Linked DNA regions of Homo sapiens: region 1 is linked to region 2. The links come from fine-mapping of genetic effects on gene expression. Tissue or cell type: whole blood. Region 2 holds a variant in brackets; the other region holds the start of a gene. All regions are shown on one strand. Distances are from middle to middle.

Region 1 (2,620 bases), 39 kb before region 2:
CCTCAGCCTCCCAAAGTGCTGGGATTACAGGCGTGAGCCGCCCGGCCCGGAGTTTTCTATTCTTTTTTTTTGAGACGGAGTCTCGCTCTGTCGCCCAGGCTGGAGTGCAGTGGCGCCGTCTCGGCTCACTCCGAGCTCCGCCTCCCGGGTTCACGACATTCTCCTGCCTCAGCCTCCCGAGTGGCTGGGACTACAGGCGCCCCCCACCTCGCCCGGCCAATTTTTTGTATTTTTAGTAGAGACGGGGTTTCACCGTGTTAGCCAGGATGGTCTCGATCTCCTGACCTCCTGATCCGCCCGCCTCGGCCTCCCAAAGTGCTGGGATTACAGGCGTGAGCCGCCGCGCCCGGCCTGGAGTTTTCTTTTTTTTTTTAAGCATCACTTCATATTTCAAGAGCTCTCAGTTCTCCTGAGATTTCTAGGCTCTGTCCAGGATCCCTAAGCCTGTTCACAGTCCTACTTGAAGTTTCTAATCTTTCTTTTCTCATTAACCAAAACTGGAGAGAGGAAAAAGCCCATCATTTTCCCTGGACAGCAGCGCCTACTGGGAGTTTCACCCGCATTAACATGCAAACGACAGGCAAACTCCTAGTCATCCTTCCAAAGACCCTGCTCCACAGCCCTGCCGAGGCCGGTGCGCACCTAGCCCAGCCACTGCCCCTCACGGCCCCCGCGCCGCCCTCACTGAGCAGGGCGGGCAGCGCTGTAAGCGTAACCACTTGGGGCTTGGGGCTTCTGACCCGGGAGTCGGGTGCTGGGTTGAGTGCGAGGCCGACGCCTCTGCCGGGTGGGGAACCCGCCCGCCGGCGAGGAGCGGTCGCGGCCAGGGGCTTCCGCCGACTGGGAGGCCCGGGGCCGGGCCGGAGGGACTCGGAACCTGGAAACGACCAGGCGCGACCCCCAGAGGACTACAGGCGCGGCTTTTCTGGCCGCCGCCCGGTTCCCGCGGGCGACTCCACTCGGCATGCGCGGCGGGGAGCCTCGGCGGTGAGGCGCAAAGCCGCGGGCTCGTGGGACGGCCACCCCTCCGCAAAACCGCCAATGGGCGGGCCCGGGCCGCCGATCGCCCGCCGCGGCTTCCGGTTCCGATGACAGTGGCGCCGGAAGCCGGGGCCGGGGCTGCGGGGCGAGGTGAGAGCGGGCGGGCTTGGGAGCCGGCAGGTGCGGGCCGAGGGCGGGCACAGCGGCCGGCGGAGCTGAGGCGCGCGGCGGGGAAAGCTCGGCCGGCCTCCCGGGCCCCAGCCTTCTCCAGAACCCCTGCTACCCACGACTAAGCCCCGAACAATCTGCCCTTGGGCTTGTTCTCTTCGCAGTTGTCGGCCCTGGGCCGGGAGCTGGAGTCCCAGACTCATAGGTCCCGGCCCAGCCCCCGAAGAGCCGCCTCAGCCGGGGGGAGTTGCTCGGACTCAAACGTCCAGTCCTCGTGCGACCGCGCTGGGTCGGAAGTGAGCAGGTGCGCACCGGGCTCGGCAGGGCTATGGAGCAGGGTCTTTGGAAGGATGACTAGGAGTTTGCCTGTCGTTTGCATGTTAATGCGGGTGAAACTCCCAGTAGGCGCTGCTGTCCAGGGAAAATGATGGGCTTTTTCCTCCCTCCAGTTTTGGTTAATGAGAAAAGAAAGATTAGAAACTTCAAGTAGGACTGTATAGTAAAAAAAAAAAAAAAATGGAGGAGGGCGATATGACACGGTAACTGGTGTGAGGGTGGGGCGGAGGGGTCAGTATTAGATACTGTGGTCTAGCAGAGCATCTCTGAGGACGGGACATTTGCGTTGAGACCCAAATTAGGAGGCAGGCTTAGGAAGATACGGGAAGAGAGTGGTCCAGGCAGCGGGAACAGCCAGTGTGAAGGCCCTAGGGCAGAAATCAACTGAGAGTATAGTCAAGGAACAGAAAGCAAGCTAGTGTGGCTAAAGTATGGTAAGAAAGGGAAAGAGTGGTAGGAGATGAGGTCGGATAATTGGGGTTTGGTCACATAGAGTCTGTAGGTCAGAGAGAGGAATGTGGAGTTTTTTCTAAGTACAGTGGAAATCTTTTGGTTTTAAGCAGAGGAGTGACATGTAGGGTAGAGAGTGGATGGAGGTCGCGGCTGCAAAAGCATAAGAATTGGCTGGGCACGGTGGTTCACGCCCGTAATTCCAGCACTTTGGGAGGCTGAGACTGGCAGACGGCTTGAGCTCAGCACTTCAAGACCAACCTGGCCAACATGGTGAAACCCTGTCGCTCCAAAAAATTAGGCTGGGCGCAGTGGCTCACGCTTGTAACCCCAGCACTTTGGGAGGCCAAGGCGGGAGGATCACTTGAGGCCAGGAGTTCAAGACCAGCCTGGCCAACATGGTGAAACCCCGTCTCTACTAAAAATACAAAATTTAGCCGGGTGTGGTGGCAGGTGTCTGTAATTCCAGCTACTTGGGAGGCTGAGGCAGGAGAATCGCTTGAAACTGGGAAGCAAAGGTTGCAATGAGCCAAGATCGTGCCACTGTACTCCAGCCTGGGCGACAGAGTAAGACTCTGTCTCAAAAACAAACAACAAAAAAATTAGCCAGGTGTGGTGGGGAGAGAGGGGAAGAATAGGGACAAAAGGGAATACATAAATAAACACAAAGGAGAAAAGGCCCTGC
Region 2 (2,754 bases):
ACTTGTCAAATTTTGTTTTTGTTTCCATTGCTTTTGAGGACTTACTCATAAATTCTTTCCCAAGGCTGATGTCCAGAATGGTGTTTCCTAGGTTTTCTTCTTGGATTCTTATAGTTTCAGGTCTTACATTTAAATCTTTAACCCATCTTGAGTTGTTGTTATTATTATTATTATTATTGAGAGAGAGTCTTGCTCTGTCGCCCAGGCTGGAGTGCAATGGCGCAATGTCAGCTCACTGCAACCTCTGCCTCCCGGGTTCAAGTGATTCTCCTGCCTCAGCCTCCCGAGTAGCTGGGATTACAGGCACACATCACCATGCCCGGCTAATTTTTTGTATTTTTTCGTAGAGACAGGGTTTCACCATGTTGGCCAGGCTGGTCTCGAACTCCTGACCTCAAGTGATCTGCCCACCTCAGCCTCCCAAAGTGTTGGGATTACAGGCATGAGCCACTGTGCCCAGCCTTGAGTTAATTTTTGTATATGGTGAAAGAAAGTTGGTCCAGTTTCGATCTTTGGCATATGGCTAGCCAGCTATCCCAGCACCATTTATTGAATAGGGAGTCCTTTCCCTATTGCTTGTTTTTGTTGACTTTGTCAAAGATCAGATGGCTGTAGGTGTGTGGCTTTATATCTAGGCTCTCAGTCCTGTTCCATTGGTCTATGTGTCTGTTTTTGTACCAGTACTGTGCTGTTTTGGTTACTGGAGCCTTATAGTATAGTTTGAAGCTGGGTAATGGGAAGCCTCCAGCTTTATTCTTTTTGCTTAGGATCGCTTTGGCTATTTGGGATCTTTTTTGGTTCCAGATGAATTTTTAAATAGTTTTTTTTTCTAGTTCTGTGGAAAACGACATTAGTAGCTTGATAGGAAGAGCACTGAATCTGTAGATTGCTTTGGGCAGTGTGACCATTTTAATGGTATTGATTCTTCCAATTCATGGGCATGGAATGTTTTCATTTGTTTGTGTCCTGTATGATTTCTTTCAGCAGTGTTTTGTAGTTCTCCCTGTAGAGATGTGCCTGCTTCCCCTTCGCCTTCTGCCATGATTATAAGTTTCCTGAGGCCTCCTCAGCCATGCTTACTGTACAGCCTGCAGAGCTGTGAGCCTATTGAATCTCTTGTCTTTATAAATTACCCAGTCTCAGATAGTACAGGGTGAGAACGGATTAATACAGAAAATATATGTTGAAATCCTAGCTACTTGAGAGGCTGAGATGGAAGGATTGCGTGAGTCTAGCAGTTCAAGGCTACAGTAAGCCATGATCACACCATTATGTAACTGAACAGAAGGTGAGTTGCTTGCCATATGCAGAGTCCAATTAACGAGATCAGGATCTGGTAGAAATAAGATGATTTATTCCAAAGCTAGCTTAGGGGAAGAGGCACAGGCATCCTGCCTTTAAATATGCCACTTCACCTTTGGAGCAGAAAGCAGGAACTTTTAAAAGGCATGGAAGGAAGTGAGCAAGGTAGGGGGTCCTTATCTGCCAGTAGTAGAGCTGGTGACTGCTGGCATCTTCATGGGCAGGCTGGTATCTCTCAAGGCAACCTCTTTAGGGTGAGAGTTTCTTAGCAGGAATGCTTCAGTTTGCAAATCAACTGTTAACTCTTGAGAGTTCCATCTTGGAGTCCAGTTAGATAAACTTGCCCGTAGGGAGACTGGTGAAAGGGAGGTAGAAGGCTATATTTGTGGGTTTTTTTGTTTTG[C/CTTTGT]TTTGTTTTGTTTTTGAGATGGAGTCTCCCTCTGTCACCCAGGCTGGAGTGCAGTGGCACAATCTTGGCTCACTGCAACCTCCGCCTCCCAGGCTCAAGCGATTCTCCTGCCTCAGCCTCCTGAGTAGCTAGGATTACAGGCGCCAACCACCACGCCCGGCTACTTTTTGTATTTTTAGTAGAGACGGGGTTTCACCATATTGTCCAGGCTGGTCTGGAACTCCTGACCTCAAGCGATCTGCCTGCTTTGGCCTCCCAAAGTGCTGGGATTACAGGTGTGAGTCACTGCACCCAGCCTATATTTCCATTTCTAAAAGGCTAAGTAGAAAGTGGGCAACCGGGGGAAAGACAAAAGAAGAGAGAGGAAAAATTAAACTACCCACTAGAAAAATGGGGGTACTCAGTTACATTTCCCCACTGACAAATTCCATTCCATTTCTATGGGATCTGGGCACCATATTCATTCTGGCTACTTCCTGCTGAGAGGGAGCATAGCCTTTGGGCATCAGAATGGAACTGATGTATTTGGAGTTGTAAATATTCATGAGTACTTGGGCTTGCAGATGATGTTTGTTGGAGCAATATAGTGCGAGGTCTTGAGAGCCTCTGAGAGAATGCCTGTCTTGCATTCCTATACAGGGGGTGCAACAGCAGTGGACCCTACAACAGAGGGATATGCCCATCTCTGCAATCAGGGCCAATGTTACAAGCAGCTTTGCCACCAGGATGGTTCTGACCTGGACCAGGATGCTAACCGCTGGTCTAGCAACAGTGTGGGGTCAGACACACCTTTGATTTGTTGGTGCATGTTTCACATGGCTATCGAGGCACTTCCTGAATTCTTAATTATCATGCAGGTTCACCACTGCCAATTGTAAGTGGATATGATGACAGATTGGTTGGGTATATATATTTGACAGGCTACAAAAAGAGCTATGAATCCTCATGAAAGTGTCTCGTTTTTGAGAAAGTATCAGCTTAAATAGCTGTGTCTCATCCAGAAGGTGGCATTGGAGATGGGCTAGGCCTCTGCATGTGATGAAGGCAAA

What was found. PIP is the estimated chance that this variant, and not a neighbour inherited with it, causes the effect.
Region 1: RMND5B starts here. The variant in region 2 is fine-mapped to the expression of RMND5B in whole blood (INTERVAL, PIP 0.93).

Annotation. Positions count from the first base shown.
Region 1 is chr5:178,129,924-178,132,543 of GRCh38, forward strand. It overlaps RMND5B (required for meiotic nuclear division 5 homolog B), which reads left to right and starts at 1,091. Exons shown (of 11, transcript NM_022762.5): 1 at 1,091-1,131; 2 at 1,314-1,453. RefSeq lists enhancers at 1-264, 265-916, 2,195-2,620 and a silencer at 648-1,237.
Region 2 is chr5:178,168,415-178,171,168 of GRCh38, forward strand. No RefSeq gene overlaps it. Among named protein-coding and RNA genes, the nearest start is that of NHP2, 16 kb to the left of the region's middle. The variant C/CTTTGT (reference allele first, on the strand shown) is at 1,706.